Linked DNA regions of Homo sapiens. The protein of the gene in region 2 purifies or fractionates together with the protein of the main gene of each other region. This does not show direct contact. Each region holds a gene or a part of one and is shown on either strand. Other genes may lie near its edges. The genes, in order: TRIOBP, FYTTD1, PTPRG, ERICH5, CCNY, CCNYL1 and GNG5.

Region 1 (3,500 bases), on a different chromosome or scaffold from region 2:
CATCACCCTAAAGGGTATGGAATATTTTGTATCTAAAATTCCTCTTTGCTGCTCCTTGGGAAAGTTTTCTCCTGGATTTGAATCTGCATGAGAAACCTTATCAGTCTTGGCTGGGTGCAGTGGCTCCCTCCTGTAATCCCAGCACTGGAGCTTGCAGTGAGCCAAGATCATGCCACTACACTCCAGCCTGGGTGACAGAGTGAGACTCCGTCTCAAAAAAAAAAAAAAAAAAAAAAATTAGCCGGGCATAGTGGCACACGCCTGTAGTCCCAGCTACTCAGGAGGCTGAGGCAGCAGTATTGCCTGAATTTGGGAGGTGGAGTTTGCAGTGAGCTGAGATTGCGTCATTGCACTCCAGCCTGGGCAACAAGAGTGAAACTCCATCTCAAAAAAAGAAAAAAAAGAAACTTTATCTCTTGTTCTTCAAATTTCCTTTTCCAGTAAGCTTGATCATTTAATATCCAGATGACAACCGTGTGGTCTCCAGCATTAGTATAATTCTTTCTTTGGCCTTAAAAACAAAAACCCAGAGCAGTTTTAGGTTTACAGCAAAATTGAGCAGAAAGTGCAGTGTTCCATGCACAGCCTCTCCCACTACCAATATCCTGTACTAGATAGGTATGCTTGTTTCCAGCTCCTGGCCTCAAGGGATCCTCCTTTCTTGGCCTCTCAAAGTGCTGGTGAGCCACTGTACTGGGCAGTAGGGTGATACATTTGTTACAATCCATGAACCTACACTATGAAATCACCCAAAGTTTAGGGTTCACTCTTGGTGATGTACAGCCTATAGGCTTGAATGAATGTATGACAAGTATCCACCATTGTAACATCATGGAGTAGTTTCACCCTGAAAGTCTTCAGTGTCTTTAACTTTTTTTTTTGTTTGGAGATGGAGTCTCGCTCTGTCACCCAGGCTGGAGTGCAGTAGTGCAATCTTGGCTCACTGCAACCTCTGCCTTCTGGGTTCAAGCAGTTCTCCTGCCTCAGCCTCCCGAGGAGCTGGGACTACAGGAGCATGCCGCCACATCCGGCTAATTTTTTTGTATTTTTAGTAGCGACAGGGTTTCACCCTGTTGCCCAGGCTAGTCTTGAACTCCTGAGCTCAGGCAATCTACCCACCTCGGCCTCCCAAAGTGCTGGGATTATAGGCGTGAGCCACCGTGCCTGGTCTGACCTTTTTTTTTTTTGAAACAGGGTCTTGCTTTGTCACCCAGCAGTAGTGCAGTGGCGTGATCATGGCTCACTGCGGCCTCAAACTGCCAGGCTCAAGCGATTCTCTCACCTCAGCCTCCTCAGTAGCTGGGACTACAGGCGTGTACCACTATACCCAGCTAATTTTTCTACTTTTTGTAGAGATGGAGTCTCACTTTGTTGCCCAGGTTGGTCTCAAACTCCTGGCCTCAAGCAATGCTCCCACCTTGGCCTCCCAAAGTGTCTTTGACCTTTTTATGATTACTATTTCTTGTCTAATGTCAATTTTCCTAACTTTGTCTTAACTAATAACTCAGCAGGGACATTAAGGTCTTTAAGCCAAAGTTAATTAATTTTCTTTCCTTTTTTCCAGGATAATTTCAGAGAGATAAGGTGTTTATATTAATAATAGAAATGAGAAATATGTTTACACTTTTATTAACCATTTGTTTTTACACGATCACTCCTATACATTTAATTCTACTCTCTTTGAAATAGCTTATTTACCTTTTAGGGAAGTTTTCATAATTTTACTGAATAATTAAAATTTTTCCTCTTATCTGGCACCTTTTCCAAGTAGAAAACCATTCATCCTCTGAATATGGAAAATTTTAAAACTGTGCAGTGTGTGTGTAAGGGACAGACTGGAGCTTATGAGCGGGTGGCTGTAGGAGTGTGCTTTTATTTTCTCCTATTTCCTCATCGATATGTATTTATTGAGCATCTACTCTGTCCAAGCATTGTCCCGAGTCTGGAAAATTTTTCTTAAAGGGTTGTCACATCAAAGCATTGGGAGTTTTGGCTTGATCTTAATTTTTTTTTCCTTAGATGCCTTTGGCATCTCTTAGAGTCACGTAGCATCCTGTGGTCATTTGAATTCAAAACCTAGCCTTCACTGGATTTGCTAGACTTGATGGCTTTGCTCCTTTAATTCTCTCTGGAGGTCGAAGAACCCATCTAAGCTTCCGAAGGAAACGTTTCCTTTGTCATGCTTGGTGCGGCCACATCAACCCTCGGGAACAGGTGGCCCCGAGGAGACGCTGTTGCTTCAGCATCGGACAAGCCAGGTCTCTGTTGGGGTTTCAGAATCTTCTTGAGTCCCTCACTCTTTTCTCTCAGTTCTACATGGGGGAAAAAAGGAAGGCGAGTTCTCAGGAGGAATGCTCATCAAGCAAGCTGGAGTTCGTATGGAAAATGCATCCATCCGGAAGAGAACACACAAGTGCCTTGCTTCCCTGCACCGGGTGTTTCCACTATTGTCCTCCTGGTCCTCCCCATTAGGGAGGAACAGCCCACTGGGTCACGTCTGGGCTCTTGCTTCATCGAAGCTCCTATACCCCAGTTCGGGGGAAAATTCACTCTAAGGCCTTCAGCTCTCACAGAGTAAGGAAACGCACTCACCTCCAATTAGATTACAAATTGGCTGGGTGCAGTGGCTCATGCTTGTAATGCCAAGACTTTGGGAGGTCAAGGCAGGTGGATTACCTGAGGTCAGGAGTTCAAAATGAGACCAGCCTGGCCAACATGGTGAAACCCCGTCTCTACTAAAAATATAAAAATTAGCTGGGCATGGTGGTGGACACCTGTAATCCCAGCTGCTCAGCAGGCTGAGGCAGGAAAATCACTTAAAACCAGAAGGCGGAGGTTGCAGTGAGCTGAGATTGCACCACTGCACTCCAGCCTGGGTGACAGAGCGAGACTCCATCTCAAAAAAAAAAAAAAAAAAAAAGTTACAAACAGCCTGCCCAGGGAGCCCTCAAGCTCAGAAACACTTCCTCCAGGGAACTTTGGTTCCTCTCCGAACCAGCTGCCAATAACTGCTAACAACTAACATTATTGTGCTTTATGGCTCTGATTCTAATGACATTGGCAAAAGACATGAAACAACAAAAAACTCCAACCCCATACTTTTTTTTTGAGACAGGATCTTGCTCTTTCACCCAGGCTGGAATGCAGTGGCATGATCATGGCTCACTGCAGCCTCAACCTCCCAGGCTGAAGCGATCCTCCCACCTCAGCTTCCCAAGTAGCTGGGACTACAGCCACGTACCACCATGCTCGGCTCATTAAAAAAATTTTTTTTTCCTAGAACAAGGTCTCATTCTGTTGCCAGGGCTGTCTCAAACTCCTCGACTCAAGTGATCCTCTGACCTCAGCCTCCCCAAGTGCTGGAATTACAGGTGTAAAGACACTGTACCTGGCCTCCCAACCCCATATATATATATATATATTTTTTGAGACAGGGTCTCACTATGTCACCCAGGCTGGAGTGCAGTGGCGCGATCTCAGCTCACTGCAACCTCCACCTC
Region 2 (3,500 bases):
CGGGAGGCTGAGGCAGGAGGATCGCTTGAGCTTGGGAGGTCAAGACTGCAATAAGCCATGATCATGGCACTGCACTCCAGCCTGGGTAACAGAGCCAGACCTTGCCTCCAAAAAAAGGGTACACAGAGTATACATGCACATAATTTTTAAAACATAAAAAACACTGTTCCAACGTGGTCATTTAGGGCTGCAGAATCAGGAATCAAGAAAGCTCTTACTTTACTTTACACCATATACTGTTTCCATATTGTATCACAGGTATTACTGTCTTCCTGGTTCATCCCAACTTGGACATCATTCTCTGAGCAGAAGTCCAATACTTTCTTATGATCTCATGTAATGAGAGGTTATAATTTTTGCAAAAAGAAAGAAACAACTTACACTGGGCATTGCACTGCTCCAGGATTGTCAATAGATACAGTCAAAATCCCTCCATTTGTGGTGGAAGTCCGCCATCTAGTTTCAAAAAAAATAAAAAAAATTCATTAAATGTAAGTTGATAAACCCTATGTATATTCAAAATAAAAATGAACATTAAAAGTAGCCATTACTTTTTCTTAGCTTGTAAGAAATAAGTACCTGAACCCCACCATGATATAATAAATCAACATCTTGGGTGCGGAACTGGGCATCTGAATTAATTTATTAAATATTTTTCAGTGTAATAAATGTATACAAATTTAAAAAAATCAAATAGTACAAAAGAACTTCTAATAAAAAGCAACAGTCCCTCACCCCACTATTCTCCTGCTTTCTATTCCTACTCTCCAGAGGCAGCACTTTTAACCTGTTTTTACTGCTTTCTGGTTACTTCCAATTCACTAAACAAGATGCTTACATAGTAAAAAAAAAACCTTGCTGCAGCCGGGCACTGGCTCACACCTGTAATCCCAGCACTTTGGGAGGCAGAGGCAGGTGGATCATGAGGTCAGGAGTTCAAGACCAGCCTGGCTAAGATAGTGAAACCCCATCTCTACCAAAAAAAAAAAAAAAAAAAACAAATTTAAGCTGGGCGTGGGGTGTGGTGGTGGGTATTTGTAATCCCAGCTACTCAGGAGGCTGAGGCAGAGAACTGCTTGAACCCGGGAGGGGGAGGTTGCAGTGAACTGAGATTGTGCCACTGCGCTCCAGCCTGGGCAACAGAGCGAGACTCCATCTCAAAAAAAAAAAAAAAAAATTGCTATGATGAATAAAGATTTAGTTCGTCAAACTATCCTCCAGTTTCCTTACCCACCATGAAACATTTTGATGGCTGTATCACTATTTCCAGGCCTTTGTAACTGAAAATACTTAAATCTCTGTTTCTTTCAGCAGAATCTCTTGAACCCACCCCCAGCTTTATGTGAAAGGATAATAGTGCCTCTATTCCTTCCCTCCACCTCTGCTCCTTTGTTTGTACCTCTCACTTTCTGTCAGCTCTTCCTTTATATTCACATTAGTCAAAATCGGACATTTACATTATATTGTTCTCAAATTAACTATTTTGTGCTTTGTCTAACAGGTTGATTCTCAAAGTTCAAAACAAATAACATTTATATGATCACAATTATGTAAATATTGTTCACTGCAGAAGCAAAAAGGCTACAATTATTATTTCTTTCCCCATGGTTTCTAATGTCATGACCCCTGTGCTAAAGAATACCACCTGTATCAGTTTCACAGTTTCCTAACACTCCAATTGCTAAAAATCATGCACCACAGTTGGCACCATATCTGGGCCCTGACCATGTTTTACAGCCAGCTCTCTGTATCCACAGGTTCTACGTCCATGTATTCAATCAGTTGCAACCGCAGAATGAAAACAATCCACGGATATGGAGGGCCGATTGTAAGGGACTTGAGTATCTGAGGATTTTAATCTCTTCAGTGGGCCTGGAACCAATTCCCCTGAGACACAGAGACAATCCGCGGATATGGAGGGCCGACTGAAAGGGACTTGAGTATCTGAGGATTTTAATCTCTTCAATGGGCCTGGCAACAATTCCCTTGAGACACAGAGGGCCAAGTGTATATATTTTATTTTCCAAAAAGTAGTCATAATTTTAAATAGTTTAATCTCAAAACCTAATCACACTGATGGAATTAGTATGTTACAACTCACACTTAGGAGGTGTGATTATAACAGGATAAAATAGGTTTTCAAAAGATTTTTTATAGGGCTAAGAAAAAAAGACTGTGAAAAGGAAAACTATTGTTTTTAAAGTTGTACAAATGTTCTAAAAGCTCCACTGAATTTTATTCTATTCATTCCCTAAATAGGTTCATTTGTATGAAAGCAGTTATAGCAAAAAAAAGAAAAAGAAAAAGCTGTTTCATTAAAATGGTATAGCCAATAAAAAATAAAAATAATAAAAATGAAGTAATCTACGTGGCACTAAAACTGTTACAATATCGACACATGAAAACTCAAAAGGTTTTTGGGGAAAATTAACAAAGGACAAAACAAGATTTATTTATTTTAGCCTCAATGTTTAAAAATTTTTTTGGAGACAGTCTCCATAGCCCGAGCTATGCTGCTCAGGCTGGTGTGCACTGGCCATCGAGCTATGCTGCTCAGGATGGTATGCACTGGCGATCGAGCTATGCTGCTCAGGATGGTGTGCACTGGCCATCGAGCTATGCTGCTCAGGCTGGTGTGCACTGGCGATCGAGCTATGCTGCTCAGGCTGGTGTGCACTGGCGATCGAGCTATGCTGCTCAGGATGGTATGCACTGGCGATCGAGCTATGCTGCTCAGGATGGTGTGCACTGGTCATCGAGCTATGCTGCTCAGGCTGGTGTGCACTGGTCATCGAGCTATGCTGCTCAGGATGGTGTGCACTGGTCATCGAGCTATGCTGCTCAGGCTGGTGTGCAGTGGCAATCAAGTTATGCTGCTCAGGCTGGTGTGCAGTGGCATCGAGCTATGCTGCTCAGGCTGGTGTGCAGTGGCGATACACAGGTGACATTATGGCACTTCACAGCCTTGAACTCTTGGGCTCCATCAATTCTCTTGCTTCAGTCTCCCAACTAGCTGGGATTACAGGTGTGTAGCACCACTATGCCCAGCTTTCAGACTGAATTTTATTTTGGGTTTCAATTAATTTCTTCTGGACTGAGGTACATGATAATTTGGGTAGTTAGTATTCTGGGAGTTTTGAAATAACATCTTAAAAAACAAATGGAAACTTACTGACGAGTTCTCTTTGCTACTACATCGTCTAGCAGTTGTTCTGTATTCAACTGGGCCTGCACCTGAAGGGAAAAAAAAAGCAGTAGGTACCACAGAAAGCAGAGGATTTGAATCCAAAGAGCGATCCTGCTCTGGAACTTCCTAACCCAGTGGTGCGTGTACATGAGTGCAGCGGAGGTGCCTGCGCTATTCTACAACTTCCTAACCCAGTGGGGCGTGTGCGTGAGTGCAGCGGAGGGGCCCGCGCTATTCTAGAAATTCCTAACCCAGTGGGGCGTGTGCGTGAGTGCTGCGGAGGGGCCCGCGCTATTCTAGAACTTCCTAACCC
Region 3 (3,500 bases), about 140 Mb from region 2:
GATGCTTTAGTAAAACTCATGGTCCCTGGATATAATTTTCATTTTCAAGTTTGATTCTTGTTTTTTTCTTCATCTTGAGCTCTAAAATGGTTAGTGCCTGTAAAAGAACCAACTACCTGGTCGCATTTCTTAAATGAAGTTTTAAAGTATGTATAAAAAAAAATTGAAGAAACGAAAAAGGCAGAATTTAAGAAATGTTGGTACTTAATATTTTGTAAGAACTCATGTTAAACATTTAAAATGATACACTGTGTCCTCATTATTAATTATCTCATGGTTTTATAGTAGAATGTTAATGGGGAGCTAAAAATTTTTAATTTTATGACTGAACTCAGTGAAATTAAACTATTTTTCATTTCATATCACTTGGTATAATTTGCTTGGCAGTCTCATTTCTTCAGCTGAGATTCAAATGAAAGTTTCAGTCTATGGAAAGTTTTACCATGAAAACTAAAACTGTAGATTCATCTCATTCTTTGAATCTTGATACAAAGGGAGAAACTATTTACATACAGAACAATGTGCAAAATAGAATTTAAAAGACAAAGATAAATAGGAAAGCACTTGGTAACTGGAGAGACAGGCGATGTTTGAAAGTTAGAAGCAATTTTGATTTATTATCAGATGACTGAGCCCTAATTATTTTAATAGTCCTTATAATCTCTCTTTTTCACCTTCACTTCAGTCAATTCCATATAAACCTTAACCGCTTTTAAGCTTCTTCATGTCCCTATCAAAGAAAAAGAACAACCATTTAGGAAAAGTTAACTTTTCTCTAGTATTGTTTAGTAATTCTTTTTAAATTCCTAAATTATCTTCTGAAATAGTTTTTGAAATAGGCATATTTTTAGGACAATATGTCTACAAGTCATCATTCTTAATAATTAAGGTAAGATAGATTAGTTCAGAAAAAATAGGACATTTTTTGGACTAAACGAGTTACTTTAAAGTACTATGTCATTATGGCCAGGGGCTGATGTTTATATTCAGATAAAGTCATAAATTGCTCAGAAGAAAATACAACACTGTATATCTACTTGAATACCAACAATTCATACATAGGTCAAAACCGTATTTTCTTTTTCATCACATTTAAGGAGTACAAGGAGTACAAATAGTAATCCATTTCGGTGTATACATTAATGCAAAGAAGACATAACCCCCAAACTCAAGGCATTTAAAACATTTTCTTGCTTTATGCCAAAGAAACTTTTTCAAAGCACTACCTTGAATTGCTTTTCCAGTCGTGTCTTTCCTCCTACTCCTGGTATAAGGATGCTGTTAACATAGCTGTGCAGCTGATTTGAAGATACTTCAGTCTCCTTTCCAAGAATGGCTTCCAACAAGGCATCATGGATGAAAATGTACTGCTCCTAAGAGGTACAATACATGGTAGTCACTGAGGGAGTGTTAAGGGTTAGCCACTCATTCATGAAGTGTACCTTAGTTTAATTCTGCTGCTAACAGGGACCTCCCAGTGATTTCCTTCAAGCACTTACAGCTAGGTGATTTGCTCCAATACTCACTTTATCAGTCTTAACTTATTTTACGGTAGAGACTGTGTTAAGTTTAGCTCTGTATTCTATACTGTGCCTGGATCACGGTATTCTATACTGTGCTTATTGCTTCAACTCAATAAGCAAACAAAAAATCGTGTTCAATGAAGGGTTTTAGAACCATCCTCTCCTATGTATTTCTCAGGCCAGACAACATGTTTAACTCCCCCTACCATCTAACACAGCTCTTGAAACAACTGTATCTCTTTCGTAAGTACTTGTGTAGTTATTTAGGAATCCAAATGTTAAGATCCATACAGAAATGGAAAACTGTGATCCGTAGAATAGGATCATTGTCAGAATATCTTCTAATACAAACCTGTAAATTACTGCAAGCCCTAAAAGAATGAATCTGTCTCTTCATTATCATTTAACAAATTTCAGTTACAGCATTTGCCAGAATGTCGTGAGGACGCTGGCAGCTACTCCTTACCTCAGTCTGGACGAGGTAGTTACGCTGTGTCCTGATATGCTTCAGGAATCCCAGGACGTTAACTGTGCTTTTGTCTTTTATCTGTTGCAGCATGCTGTCTATTACAATATAGGTGCCTGTTCTGCCCACACCAGCACTGTAAGAAATGAAGACACTCAACTGGCACTTTTGTTTTATCATACTGTTAACTTTGGATTCGAAAAATTCCAATCTAAACCCCATTTATTTTATTATTTTTCTGAGATGAGATGGAGTTTCACTCTGTTGCCCAGGCTGGAGTGCAGTGGCGCAATCTCGGTTCACTGCAACCTCCGCCTCCCAGTTCAAGCAATTCTCGAGCCTCAGCCTACCGAGTAGCTGGGATTACAGATGTGTACCACTACACCCGACTAATTTTTTATCTTTAGTAGAGGTTTCACCGTGTTGGCCAGACTGGTATCGAACTCCTGACCTCAGGTGATCTGCCCACTTTGGCCTCCCAAACTGCTGGAATTACATGTGTGAGCCACCACTCCCAGCCTAAACCCCACTTAGATAACCTTAGATGACGTACGTTATTCACTTAGCATTGCAACATAAATCACAGAACAAGCGACATGTATTTGAGTACCAAAGTTTAAAACAAACAAAAAAGAGGCAAGAATGCATTTTCAAATGAAACAGAATAAAAGCATTTTTAAACAACCAACTAAAGTCATTTACTGTGGCTGACAAAAAACAAGCTTTATACAAGGATTTCCCAGTGCTTTTGAAAAGGTATTTTATATGGAACATTTAAACTAAAAATTTAAAAATGAAATATTTTCATATATACTATAAATATTGTTATTTAGAAGAACCTTTCAGAAAAGCCATTTACAAAAACACAATCTCTATTCTAGTGTGGAAAGTTCTTGTGTTTAACGTCATATTTTTATTTATTAGGATCAGGCTACAATTTTCCTATAAACAATGGGGATTTTGTAATTTTTTCTTTTTTTTTTTGAGTCATGATCTTGCTCTATCATCACCCAGGCTGGAGTGCAGTTATGTGAACACAGCCCACTGCAGCCTTGACCTACTGGGTTCAAGGGATCCTTCTGTCTCAGCCTCCCATGTAGCTGGGACCACAGGCATGTGCCACCATGCTGGCTAATTTTTTTATTTTTAATTTTTGTAGAAATGGGGTGTCACTTTGTTGCCCAGGCTGGTCTCAAACTCCTGGGCTCAAGTGATCCACCCACCTCAGCCTCCCAAAGTGCTGGGATTACAGGAGTTGGCCTCCATGCCTGGCTGATATTATTAATAAGAAGATTTTATAAAAACTAGGGATTGATCTAGTTTTTTAAAAATCACAGAAGCAGCAGATGATTTCTTAATGTTACAGGAATAGAGCCTCTTTAAGACTATCATAGGTCTTATCCATCCCAGTTTCCAGTGGAAGATTCAGCTTCTAAGTGAAAGCAGTAGCAATCATTGTGGTCCAAGGTCACTGAGGCCTAAGTCCCCTGCCCCATCTATTTCACATGTTG
Region 4 (3,500 bases), on a different chromosome or scaffold from region 2:
GGTCTTGAACTCCTGACCTCAGGTGATCCACCTGCCTCGGCCTCCCACAGTGCTGGGATTACAGGCATGAGCCACTGCACTCAGCCCAGAAGCATGATTTAATGGCAGACAATCAAGCGTTGTTTTACAGTGCTAACCTTTTCCTGCATAGCTAGGAGGCTCTATACACAACCCGACACTCTTTCTAAGCCCATCTTGGCCAATATTACCTTTCAGTTTCTGGTATTCATTAGGTTCTGATTCCTCCTCTGCTTTTCTGAGTAATACTCTTACCTCCCTGAATCCCCGTCTCTGTCAATCACCCATTCACCCATCCATCTACTCAACAGTTATTGCTTGCTTTTTTTTCTTTTCTTTCATTCTCTTTTCTTTTTCTTTTCTTTTCTTTTTTTTTTTTTTTTTTTTTTGAGATGCAGTTTCACTCTTGTTGCCCAGGCTGGAGTGCAATGGCGCGATCTTGGCTCACTGGTTCAAGCGATTCTCCTGCCTCAGCCTCCAGAGTAGCTGGGATTACAGGCATCAGCATACCAGTAAAAAATTAGCCACCACACCTGGCTAATTTTTTGTATTTTTAGTAGAGATGGGGTTTCTCCATGTTGGTCAGGCTGGTCTCGAACTCCCAACCTCAGGTGATCTGCCCACCTTAGCCTCCCAAAGTGCTGGGATTACAGGGGTAAGCCACTGCGCCCGGCCTCTTTTTTCTTTTCTTTAGAGAGAAGTCTCACTGTGTTGCCCAGGCTGGAGTACAGTGGTGCTTGACCTCCTGATTCTCCCACTACGGCCTCCCAAGTAGCTGGGATTACAGGCTCGAGCGTCCACACTCAGCTGATTGCATATGTTCTATGTGTAAGGCCACACTACAAGTTTCTTGCAGAACTAGGACCAGATCCCAGATGGAACTGGAAGTTGTGAAAAGAACAGGGGCTTTGGAGTCACACACATTAGCCATGTGCCCCAGGTCCATCCATCCATCTAGTAAGTAGGCTTACTAGACCTACTAGCTCTGAGACCAGGGCAAGTGACTTATCTGTATTAAGCTTCGTTTTCTAGCTGTATTTGGTGCAATTAATGTTTGTGTTTTAAGGCTATTGTGAGGATTAAATAAGATCACAAACTAAAGCACCTGAAACCAAGTGCATGCTCCCTCCTTATCTCCTGACTTCTGTCCCATGTGTATGTTTCGATGTGGCTGCACAAATGTCTGAAAGTTTTCTGTTTTAGAAAAAGATTTACTTTATTGTTGATGACAGTGTAAACTGCTTCAAGTCTTACAGAACACATTTAGGCAGTTATCTATCAAAACTTTCAGTGCGTACACCCTTTGACCTAGTAATGCCACTCCTGGGAAACTGTCCTACAGATATACTTGCACACATTCAAAATGATGTAGGCACAAAGGAATTCATGGCAGTCTTGTCTGCAACAGGGAAAGACTGTAAACAAATTAAATGTCCCTCAATAGGGGGGCTGGTTAAATAAATCAAGGAACATATTATTATGCAGGTATAAAAAAGGAGAAAGAAGTTCTCTGCATATAAATGTGGAAAAATCTCCATAGTGTTAGGTGAAAAAAACAAAGTGAGGAACGGTGGGTATAGTACACTACATTTTATAAATAAAGATGAGAGAAGGAAATAATATTTGCAATGCATAAATAAACTTCAAAAGAATATATAAAAAAAAAAACCCTAAAATAATAAGTGTGTATTCACAGGTGTGATTCGAACTAAATAGATGATGAGGATGGGGTGGAAGGTATACTTTTCAGACCTGCCTTTTCCAAATATTTTCACATTTTTGAACCATGTATGTAGTTTTTTTATTCCATTTCAATTAGCCATATGCAATCGCCAGGCCTATCACAAAGACATACCAAATGCTATTTAAGTGCCAGGCTCCAGAAATGACACAAGGCACACATTTGAAAGAAAAAAAATCCCATTTATATAATTTCTATATGCAAGAAAAGCCTATACAAATTAAATTTAATGTTTATGATGTTTGTTCTTCAATTCAAAAGGAAAACTTTTGTCTAGTTAGGACCAGATGACCTAACTAGATGTCAGAGTGTGAAATATTGGGTGAAAACTGAAGGTATGACTGCAGTACAAAGAACAATTCACATAACTGTGAAATTCAAGCTTCATCTGATTGCCTAGGCCGCATGGACAGCAAGCAGCTAGTGAAAGTTCAGGTTAGAACAAACAAATGATTATAGCTGTCAGTGGAAATGTACACATTAACCTAGCAATGAACTTGTCAATAATTACCACCTATTTACTTTGTCCATGTTTGGTGCTTGGGCTGTAACACCTTGGAAAGAAGTCTGCCAAAACAGATCCCATTTATATTAGGAAAGATTCGAGCAGTGATTATCCATGTTAGCAGAGGGCTAGGAACACTGGGAGGAGGGTTTGGATGTGAACGTCTATAGACACCTTCAGGCACATTAAGGTCTGTGGAGTCAATAAAACCTTTGTGTTCAGATTGCATCGGATCCTCAGGACACTCAAAACAACAGAAATTGTCCTAATATTTAAAACTTGCTTCCAAAAACACAAGAAATTCCAAACTCAATCTGTCTAATTATCCTTTGGAATGAAAAGTCTCTTTCCTCACACATTTCAGGGCACGTCATAAAAATCGATGTGTGACTACCACATATTAGGCACTGTTCTACGCTGTGAGGAGCACTAATAATTGTTAACAATCAGAGTCTTCACCTCTGTTCTCCCAAACACACACACCTATCTGGTCAGTCATCTTGGGAGGTGATAGGAAGCAGCTCCGTGAGATTCAGTGTCTAATGGGTCAGGGCAAATGTCCCCACATAATCAGTAGAATAGATTATTCCTGTGCAACCTAATGTCTACCTACTAGTAGCTGCTGTCTGATTTAAATTTATAACATAGGCTGGGCACAGTGGCTCATACCTGTAATCCCAGCACTTTGGGAGGCCGAGGTGGGAGGATCACTTGAGCTTGGAAGTTCAAGACCAGCCTGGGCAACATAGCAAGACCCTGTCTCAATTTTTTAAATAAAAAATAAAATAAATATATAATATTTGTATAACACATTATACTATATATCTTATTTAGGGATTAGACTAATATTTAGAATCATAATAAGGGATTATTCTATCCCTAAATAATATATATAGTATAGGCCACGCGTGGTGGCTCATGCCTATAATCCCAGTACTTTGGGAGGCTGAGGCGGGTGGATCACCTGAGGGCGGGAGTTCGACCAACATGGAGAAACCCTGTCTCTACTAAAAATACAAAATTAGCCGAGTGTGGTGGCACATGCCTGTAATCCCAGCTACTCGGGAAGCTGAGGCAGTAGAATCACTTGAACCCAGGAGGCCGAGGTTGCAGTGAGCCGAGATCATGCCATTGCACTCCAGCCTGGGCAACAAGAGCGAAATGCCGTCTCAAAAAAAAAAAAAGATACATAGTATAATTTGTTGATTGTATTGTATTGATTTCATTGTTTTTAGA
Region 5 (3,500 bases), on a different chromosome or scaffold from region 2:
TTTGTCCTATGAAATAGACTGGTGTTGACCAGGATACCAGTTTGTATGGGGGTCTTGTTGGTTGCAGCTGGAGAGGAGCAGCCTTGGAGGCCTTCGTGGTAGGTGCAGCCCTGCAGCCCATCCTCTGGTCTCTGCTGTCTGCTGAGGCTCATCAGCGCAGCTGCATGCTTGTGGGTAGAGGGCACAGAGACGTGTGCCTTGAGCAAGACTCTTGTAGGATTGTTCTTCCCTCCTCGTGTTCCCTAGAGTTAGAAACAGTCATTCAGGACAAGTCTGGCCTGGAGTTGACAGAGATGCATTCATTAAGCCCTTATTTTCACTGGGCATGTGTTTGGCATCTTGGCATGCTGCTCAGCAGGCAATGGAGGAGGAAGAGCAGTTAGCCCTGGCCGTGCTTCCCACACGGAGTAGGACTGCAGCCTGCTGTGGACAGAGAGCCTACAGGCCCTTCAAACACCCAAACCTACTTCACCCAAAGCAAATATTTCACAGCTTAATCAACTTCCTTTTAAAAGAGTAACAATAACTTAGATCACTAAGTGTATTTTTTAGCCTCCTAGAATATGCTGAAAGCTCTCCTATGGATACTGCCACATGAGGAAATTTGAAAGGGAGTGAGGTAATTGATTTGCACCTTGATGAGTTATGTAGAGGCCTTTGTGGTGTACCTGCAGCAGCTGGAGGAAGCCAGGCCTGCAGTGAAGTGGGCAGAAAGGCCTTGGCATCCAGCTGCCCCTCCACGAGGCCCTTCCCTTCCCTCAGGAGTCACCCAAGCTGACTGATCCTGAGAACCATGCATGGCACCCACTTTAGTCCTATGCGGTACTTCGACAACATGAAAAGCTCATTGCCTGTCTGAACTGGGATCTTCTGTTGGAAGGATGAGAAAGCCAGAGGCCAAGGCAGAAGGAGATATATTGGAAGGTCCAGGCAGGTCTCGCATATCCCTTGTCCTGTAGGTCTGGAAGGACATCAGGCTGTAGAATGAGGCCCACTGCAGGTTTCTCTTCCTTTGGGCTGCTTCTCTCACCTTTGCGCACTGCTGTGGCTCTGGGGCCTTAATGTGCAGGTCGGCTTTCTTGCTTCGGATGGGATGTGGCAGGACAGTATTAATAGCTTTCCCCACCCTTCATCACCTCTCCGTTTAAGGCCGCACACCCTCTAACCCAGTCTCCTCTTTCAGTTTTGGAGAGGGGAGATTTTGACTGGCCCCAGTTCCTTTGGGGTCAGATGTTCATCTGTAGAAAAATCAGTCATGACCCAGAGTTGAAGGAGCTTGGTCCTGCTCTTTTTTTTCTCACTTTGCACGCTCCTCTGTTCAGAACCTGTGGTGGTTCCCATCTTCCTCAAAGGAAAACACAAAGCCCTTATGTTACTGACGGGGCCTAGCAAGATTAAGCCTCCCATCTCTGCCCAGCTGCCTCCACTCTCCTCAGTGTCATGCTGCAGCTGCTCTGTTCCCTGGATGTACCGGACACACACCTGCCTCGGGACTTCTGCACCTCAGGACTTCCTCCACCCCTTGGCACCCAGCTCCCTCTGTCCCAGGTGTGTTTGAGATGCGTCCTGCCCTCCTCCTCCCCATCTTTGCTCAAAGGGCACATCAGGGGGCTGTTGCCTGGCCACCATATCTGAAGTTGCAACCTCCCTCCTGCACCGCACTCCCTGCTCATCACTTCCTGCTTTTTCTCCACTTGCTTATCACCTGTCAGCATGCTTTAGGTTGAAGTCATTAATTTTATTGTTTTGTCAGTAAGCCCCATGCGTAAGAAATGTCTGGTCTTTTTGTCCATGTGGTTTACTACAATACGACCAACATCTGGAACACAGCCCAGCTCATAATGAATGCTCAGTAAGTATTTGTTGAACATGTAGTGAGCACAGTAATAACTGCCTACTGGCTGAAGTACATGGTGGTGATGTGCCTGAAACATAAGGATCATTTAATACCTATTTATTATCTTCCCCTGCCCCAGTAGTTTTAGAACATTGACACATTTCATTTCATTGCTTAACTTTTTTTTTTTTTTTGAGATGGAGTCTCACTTTGTTGCTCAGGCTGGAGTACAGTGGCACAATCTCAGCTCACTGCACCCTGCACCTCCCAGTTTCAAACGATTCTCCTGCCTCAGCCTTCTGAGTAGCTGGGATTACAGGCTTGCGCCACCATGCCCTGCTAATTTTTCTTGAATTTTTAGTAGAGAAGGGGGTTTCACCATGTTGGCCAGGCTGGTCACTCCTGACCTCAAGTGATCTGCCCACCTCAGCCTCCCAAAGTTCTGGGATTACAGGCGTGCGCCACCACACCCAGCCCTGCTTAAGCTTTCTGAAGGGACAGAAAAAAACTCGTCAACTTCGGGGACATCACTCAACTGAACCTTGATTGAGCATTCCGTGTGAGGTTAGTTCTGTCTGTAGAGCCACAGCAATGGGAGAGGGAGAAAGAGAGGAAGTTGGTGATTGATGGAGGGATTCCGGCATAAGGGAAGGGGAACCAAGAAGAGATCGAGGTGGCAAAGTGACAGCTGACCAGACAGGAGGGGGTGTGGTCCCTTTCTTTATTTCCTATTTTTTAATAGCTTTATTGGGACATATTTTATATACCATACAATTCAGCCATTTAAAGTGAGCATTTTAGTGGGTTTTAGTACATTGTACAACCATCACTACAACCTAATTTCAGAATATTCCCTTCACCCCATAGAGAAACCCCTTACCCTTTGGCATTCACTCCTCGTTCTTAGCCTCCACCCAGGCCCAGGAAACCACTAATCAAATTTCTATGTCATTTGCCTATTCTGAACATTTCATATCAATAGTATCTCATATGATAGTTCATGATTGGCTTCTTTTACTTAGCATATGTTTTTGGGATTCATCCATGTTGTAGCATGTATAGTATGTCCTTTTTTATTGCAAATAATATTCCATTGAGTGGGGATACATACACACACACACACACACACATATATATATATAGATCTATATATATGTGTGTGTGTGTGTGTGTGTGTGTGTGTGTGTATGTATATATAGATCTATATATATGCTGCAGCCCTAATCCCTGTTGGAGTGAACAAAGGAGGATGAACGTGAGAATAAAGACAAAGACAAAAGAATGTATTTGGAAGAAGGGGTCAGGGGGCTCCTTGCTTTTAGTGAACAAGGGCCCAGAGCTTCTATAGCCCTTCGTATTTATTGAGTAAAGGAGATACAGAGAAGGGGGTGGTTGTCAGTCAGCTGCTTGACTTAGAGCAGGCCTGCACAGCTGCATTCTCTGAACAGTAGTCTCTAGATGTTCCAGTAGATAACCTCAAGGAGCACGGCACCAGGGAGTGATTACACTCAACAAACCTTCTGGTGGCAGGTGCAGTTGTGAGTTTGCCCACATCCTGCATTCATGATAAACAGTTTGCTGTTTGATCATATAGCCTCCAGTGGAATGCTGAGTTGGTCACAACCCACAGGCTTTTGGCTCTCTCTGTCTCTCTCCCTATATG
Region 6 (3,500 bases), on a different chromosome or scaffold from region 2:
GAGGTTGGGAGATCGAGACCATCCTGGCTAACACGGAGAAACCCCATCTCTATTAAAAATACAAAAAATGAGCCGGGTGTGGTGGCACGTGCTTGTAGCCCCAGCTACTCGGGAGGCTGAGGCAGGAGAATCGCTTGAACCCAGGAGGCGGAGGTTGCAGTGAGCCAAGATTGAGCCACTGTACTTCAACCTGGGCGACACAGTGAAGATTCCATCTCAAAAAAAAAAAAAAAGAATTAAAAATATTTCCCAGGCTATAATCCTCCAATGGTTTCCTATCACAACTAAAGTCTATATTCTTTGCCAAGGCCCACTATACACACATGGCCTTAACCCACCATAGTCCTGGCATCCTTTTCACTCTTCCGCAGCCACCCTGTGTCTTTCTGTCCTTGGCCAAAAACAAGTTTGCTCCCATTCAAGGAACTCCAAAGTAACTGTCTGTGTGGACCCCTGGCTCTCACCAACCATCCTCACAAGGCTCCCTTCTCACTTTAGGACTGCTCACAGGTCACGTAAGGAGAGCAGCCATCTTTCATCCCCACAACCCCCATGTAACTGTCCTCCTCCCCAATCCATGACCCTATTTTACTTTTCTCCCTAGCACCTCACCACCTAACATTCTTGATTATTCATGTATTATCTATCCCTAGCTCCCTCCAGAATGTAAGGATCAGAGTTAGGATGAGGTTCTGTCTTGTATACCACTGTCTGCCCTAAATCTGGAACACAGCCTGGCCACCTAAAGGTACTCAATAAACATCTGTTTCAGCACACCCAAAACTAGTCAAGTTTCTCCCAGTTTTCCCACATCTTTTAATATTTCTTCTAACATTCTCTCTTGATTTGTCATCTAATCAAATCTTTTAAAGTGGTAAGCATCAAATCTTTTAAAGTGGTAGCTATTCAGAATTAAAGATGCAAGATAGGCTACCAAGAAACAAAAAATATTAAATGATGAATTCTAAAGTCCAGGGAAAAGTCAATGCTAACTCCAATTTGACATAAGAACTTTTTTTTTTTTTTTTTTTGAGATGGAGTCTCGCTCCGTCACCCAGGCTGGAGTGCAGTGGCGTGATCTCGGCTCACTGCAATCTCTGCCTCCTGGGTTCACACCATTCTCCTGCCTCAGCCTCCCGAGTAGCTGGGACTACAGGCGCCCGCCACCACGCCCGGCTAATTTTTTGTATTTTTCGTAGAGACGGGGTTTCACCGTGTTAGCCAGGATGGTCTCGATCTCCTGACCTCGTGATCCACCCGCCTCGGCCTCCCAAAGTGCTGGGATTACAGGCGTGAGCCACCACACCTGGCCCATAAGAACATTTAATACTAAAATATCTTAACTACAAAATGACTCAACCCATAGATTTAACTGAATTCTACAGGGAGGTACAAGGCATCAGTCATCAAAATATGTTTTTATCGGTACCCTTGAAATCAAATGTAATGAGACTGTGTATGATGTTACTAGAAAAGATGCCCAATCATAAAGGATAGGTAAATAAATGATACTCCAACCATCTGATGGTACATTAAGCAGTTACTAGAAGGCATGCGATAGAGCAGGGTGTCCTGGCATGGAAAGATATCTTGGAGCACTCTCTGGATGTCAAGCAGTGATTCAGGAATTTATGACATTATTTCACTGCTGTAAGTTATGAAGCAGCTCATATAGAATGATCTCATTTTTCTAAAATAAAATGTTATATTCATATGCATACCATAATCAATGACTTTTCTGTATTCTCTATGTCTTTTACATCAAACATATTATTCAAAAAAGCAAAAAAAAAAAAAAAAGAGAGGGCTTAAAATAGCTACTGGAAAGAGGAAAGATCTGTTGCTCAGAGGTTTTTCCACATTACATTGCCAATTCTTTCCCTACCTTCACCCATCAGTGGAAAAGAATAGAAAGAGTCACTTCAGAGAGCGCCTTTAGCCAGCAAATTAGCAAAGCTCCTAACGTCAGAACATAAAATGCTCCATGAAAAGTCAAGAGTACTAATAAAATCGGACAATAAGATCTTAGTATCTTATTTTGTGTTACTGATACTACCGTCAGTTATGTTAGACATACCGTTAAATAAAGGCAAGGTAGTAGAAAATACTTTGAGTCTATCTGAAATGTTTACTAGGTTCTTAGGAGCATCTCTTAGCTTGACGAGACCAGGCGTGGTGGCTCACACCTGTAATCCCAGCACTTTGGGAGGTTGAGACAGGTGGATCACCTGAGGTCAGGAGTTCCAGACCAGCCTGGCCAACATGGTGAAACCATCTCTACTAAAAACACAAAAAATTAGCTGGGCGTGGTGGCACACACCTGTAATCCCAGCTACTCAGGAGGCTGAAGCAGGAGAACTGCTTGAACTCTGGGCGCAGAGGTTACAGTGAGCCGAGATCGCGCCATTCCACTCCAGCCTGAGCAACAAGAGCGAAACTCCATCTCAAAAAAAAAAAAAAGGCCAGGCGCGGTGGCTCACACCTATGATCCCAGCACTTTGGGAGGCCAAGGCAGCTGGATCGCTTGAGGTCAGGAGTTCGAGACCAGCCTGGCCAACATACTGAAACCCTGTCTCTACTAAAAATACAAAAATTAGCTGGGCATGGTGGCATATGCCTGTAATCCCAACTACTTGGGAGGCTGAGGCAGGAGAATCACTTGAACACGGGAGGAAGAGGTTGCACTGAACCAAGTTTGTGCCATTGCACTCCAGCCTAGGCAAGAGTGAAGCTCTGTCAAAAAAAAAAAAAAAAAAAAAAGAAATAGCTTGAAGAACAAAGCCGAGCGTCATTTATGTATGATTTTTGTCTAAGTAACAAAAATAATTCTTCATTGTAGAAAAGCTAAATTTTTTGTTTGTTTGTTTGTTTTGAGACAGAGTCTTGCTCCACTGTCCAGGCTAGAGTGCAGTGGCACGATCTCAGCTCACTGCAACCTCTGCCTCCTGGGTTCAAGTGATTCTCCTGCCTTAGCCTCCTGAGTAGCTGGGATTACAGATGCCCGCCACCACACCCAGCTAATTTTTGTATTTTTAGTAGAGACGGGGTTTCACCATGTTGGCCAGGCTGCTCTCGAACTCCTGACCTCGTGATCCGCCCACCTCAGCCTCCCGAAGTGCTGGGATTACAGGCGTGAGCCACCATGCCCAGCCAAATGTTTTACATCTCAGTAAGAATTTCTGTTTCCAGGGAGACTGATATAAAATTGTCTGAAATAAAGATATTAAAAGCAAACTTTCAATGTGTCTATACTTTATATTTGGTGTTCTGGCCATGTTTCTATGGAAACTTATGAATAATAGGCAAATGCCGAAATGGAGATTTCTATTATCACTTTATTGAATGCCACAAAAATAAATTTTGAGACAAATTGAAATAAAAATGTAACTGTCATACTAACATACAATGGTAAATTCTGTGCTTACAAATTCTCTTTTTCCAACTTTTCTGATTTAGCACTCTTTATCATCATCCCATGCTTAATGCCTGGTACCTTACCT
Region 7 (2,878 bases), on a different chromosome or scaffold from region 2:
TGGTATTTCAAAAAACTTAAACATCTTAACCAATCATTGTATTTACTGGAAACATGTACTTATACAGACTTCCTGGACACTCCCAGGTCTAGGAAGCTTAATTAAGGAGGGCACAACTATGTAACAAGGTATTTTAGGAAGCAGCTTCCTGGACTTTGGAGAAGTCAGAAAGTTAGTAAGGGGTGTGTGCCATATACAAAATCTTTTTTAAAAAAGTACTATTAGTTTAAGTTTGCTTCTCATAGGTCAATACTAATGAGTACATTCCCTAACTAAAGTACTAAGAATTTATAAAAGGCAGCACCCTTCAGTTACATTTTAAATGATCCAAAACGTTTTTGGTCACATCTCTTAGATTAACATACATTTTGTACACATGACATTTGATCTGGAAGGCACAAATTAATGTACTGAAGCATGCTTTAATAAAGCCAACAGGGTCTTTAGTTTTTAATTCTCTGAAATTCAGTCCACTGTCTGTTTGCCACCAAGAACTTATATACTGCATTTCCTTCATGTTTTATCTTTAATCTAACAAATGAGAACAAAATATAAAGTCTGTTCTACCTCAGTCCAAACGCCTCTACCACACTGGCTTACTCAATTACATCTGACTTTCTCTTGCATTTCCAATTCCCAATCTTTGCTATACTGCTCTACAGCTGGGTTCAGTTAGAGCAATAACATCAAGAGTTAATCCAAATCAGTTGGTAGTACTTTAAGTTATCCCCATAAACATTGCAGATTTTTTAAAAACTGTCTAAATATTTGCCAGGTACACAAAAACAAAACTAGTACTTGGGGACTCCATTAGGCCAATGCTCTAAAAAGTAACACATGGCTTGTTACGGCAGTGGGATTTTGTAGTAACTCTCCTATACCCTCTTTATGGTTATTAAATCCTCTACTTAACCTTCTTTATGGTAAAATAGAAACGATTAGCCTTCATGGCTACTAAGTCAGCAAGTTTCATGAATCCTCACTTTCCTTGCAAAACAGAAAAATACTGGAAATGGAGGGCCAAAGGAAAGGGCATGGGATGATCTTTTAAGTGCTGCAAAGAAAGAGAAGACTAGTTATTCCTACAGTGTGGGTTTTTGTTTTAAATTTAAGGAAACTTACCTTTGAAAGATTCATTTTACTACAAAAAGGAACAGACTTTCTGGGGTCTGAAGGGATTTGTACTTGAAGATACTCCAGTCAGCAGAGGGTCATGTTGAGCATTCTGCAGACAGAACTGTTTCAAGTCTGCAGCTGCCTGGGAAACCTATACATAACAAAGAGGGGGGGAAGTGCCAGATGGTGAGAACATTTTAATGAAGGTTTTCTCAATCTTTGGAAATATTGTACTTACAATAAAACAGTACTTCTCTTGCTTCAAAAGAAGATACTATATAATAATTGAAGACTTAAGTCAAATAGTGAGCTCTTTTTTTTTTTTTTTTTTTTTTTGAGACGGAGTCTCACTCTGTTGCCAGGCTGGAGTACAGTGGTGCGATCTCGGCTCACTGCAACCTCCGCCTCGGTTCAAGCGATTCTCCTGCCTCAGCCTCCTGAGTAGCTGGGACTACAGGCGCACGTCACCACGCCCAGCTAGTTTTTCTATTTTTAGTAGAGACGGGGTTTCACCGTGTTGGCCAGGATGGTCTCTCTCTCTTGACCTCGTGATCCGCCCACCTCGGCCTCCCAAAGTGCTGAGATTACAGGTGTGAGCCACCACGCCCAGCCTAGTGAGCTCTTAATACTTAAAACTAGTGCTTGCAAATAAGACTGATTTAATTAAGTATGTTTTCTTTTGCTTGGTTACTAGAAGCATCAGATGACTGAGTACAAACAGTAGAATTATGTTGATTTTTGCAAAGCGTAGCACATCTTGCTTATTAATAATAGGCTGTTCAAGTGCAAACCTGAGGGTACTTAACATCTTATTAAAAACATTAAGGGTTAAACAAAAAGCAATAACATTCTAGCAAACTATTACTTTGTCTTGAAAGCAGTATTACTGGAAAAATGCTACTGTGAATGAACATAATGTGGGATAACTAGCACATAATTTAGAAAAGCCAACACTAAGAATGCATTCAGTATACTGATCCTCAAATTTATCAGACCCTTATACTGTCTTGCATTTAAACTAAAACAAATTAAAAGAGGCATGCATTCATTCACTTAGACATCTACTATTTCTATATATTCTGCTAAGGTGATGTAGGATATAAACAAAATAACCATAAAGCCATTGAAGTTCCTTAAGTCCTGTTTGGGTGGCTCTGTATATGTATATTAACACTTAAATCATATTTAAGGCAATAGTTTCTTAAAGGCAGGCTGCTCAGAAAAACTGTTAAATTGAAGTTTGCTAGCAGCCTTTCAGTCACGTGACACTGGGCAGAAATCTGTCACTGTCTAGTTTAATAACATTAACGGACCCGTTCAGACGTGGAACATGAATGACTAAAACATGCCCCAAATGCATCTAATATCTGAAGTCTTGAACTGAGATTTAAAAAGTGGGAGAAATACTCATTTATTTTATTCTCAGTCTTTATCCGCAAGGAGGCTGGGAGCAGGTGTCCAGTCCATCCAGCTGGATATGTGGCCTCAGGGAATTAATAGCATCACAAATGCTCTCTATACCAAGAACCCCTGCAGATTACAGCTGTACCTCCAACCTAATAATTCTTCATCCTAAGATGAATCTAAACGCTTATCGAATCTATTTGTGTGTTTTGCTTATACAGCAGTCCAGAGTAATGAGTTCCATAGGTTTATTAGCTCCTATGTAAAAGAAGTATTTTTACAAATGACTACACCCCCTCATCCCCCGCCTTCCAAAAGAAGTGTAGCTAAAGTAGGGGAACAATGGTGTCATTTTTCA

Evidence for each region.
Region 1: the proteins of FYTTD1 (region 2) and TRIOBP purify together in Homo sapiens (affinity purification with mass spectrometry; 2 studies listed by BioGRID and IntAct, with this or other methods). This does not show direct contact.
Region 3: the proteins of FYTTD1 (region 2) and PTPRG purify together in Homo sapiens (affinity purification with mass spectrometry; 3 studies listed by BioGRID and IntAct, with this or other methods). This does not show direct contact.
Region 4: the proteins of FYTTD1 (region 2) and ERICH5 purify together in Homo sapiens (affinity purification with mass spectrometry; 2 studies listed by BioGRID and IntAct, with this or other methods). This does not show direct contact.
Region 5: the proteins of FYTTD1 (region 2) and CCNY purify together in Homo sapiens (affinity purification with mass spectrometry; 2 studies listed by BioGRID and IntAct, with this or other methods). This does not show direct contact.
Region 6: the proteins of FYTTD1 (region 2) and CCNYL1 purify together in Homo sapiens (affinity purification with mass spectrometry; 3 studies listed by BioGRID and IntAct, with this or other methods). This does not show direct contact.
Region 7: the proteins of FYTTD1 (region 2) and GNG5 purify together in Homo sapiens (affinity purification with mass spectrometry; 2 studies listed by BioGRID and IntAct, with this or other methods). This does not show direct contact.

What each region holds. Positions count from the first base shown.
Region 1 is NC_000022.11:37,728,048-37,731,547, forward strand, and holds part of TRIOBP (TRIO and F-actin-binding protein), read left to right. Parts: intron 1-3,500.
Region 2 is NC_000003.12:197,773,883-197,777,382, reverse strand, and holds part of FYTTD1 (UAP56-interacting factor), read right to left. Parts: intron 3,235-3,500; coding exon 3,173-3,234; intron 457-3,172; coding exon 382-456; intron 1-381. UniProt on the Homo sapiens protein: Required for mRNA export from the nucleus to the cytoplasm. Acts as an adapter that uses the DDX39B/UAP56-NFX1 pathway to ensure efficient mRNA export and delivering to the nuclear pore.
Region 3 is NC_000003.12:62,271,571-62,275,070, reverse strand, and holds part of PTPRG (receptor-type tyrosine-protein phosphatase gamma isoform 1 precursor), read right to left. Parts: intron 2,126-3,500; coding exon 1,990-2,125; intron 1,374-1,989; coding exon 1,227-1,373; intron 1-1,226.
Region 4 is NC_000008.11:98,067,568-98,071,067, reverse strand, and holds part of ERICH5 (glutamate-rich protein 5), read right to left. Parts: intron 1-3,500.
Region 5 is NC_000010.11:35,532,009-35,535,508, forward strand, and holds part of CCNY (cyclin-Y), read left to right. Parts: intron 1-3,500. UniProt on the Homo sapiens protein: Positive regulatory subunit of the cyclin-dependent kinases CDK14/PFTK1 and CDK16.
Region 6 is NC_000002.12:207,714,640-207,718,139, reverse strand, and holds part of CCNYL1 (cyclin-Y-like protein 1), read right to left. Parts: intron 1-3,500. UniProt on the Homo sapiens protein: Key regulator of Wnt signaling implicated in various biological processes including male fertility, embryonic neurogenesis and cortex development. Activates the cyclin-dependent kinase CDK16, and promotes sperm maturation.
Region 7 is NC_000001.11:84,500,704-84,503,581, forward strand, and holds part of GNG5 (guanine nucleotide-binding protein G(I)/G(S)/G(O) subunit gamma-5), read right to left. Parts: intron 1,268-2,878; coding exon 1,142-1,267; 3' UTR 1,123-1,141; intron 1-1,122. UniProt on the Homo sapiens protein: Guanine nucleotide-binding proteins (G proteins) are involved as a modulator or transducer in various transmembrane signaling systems.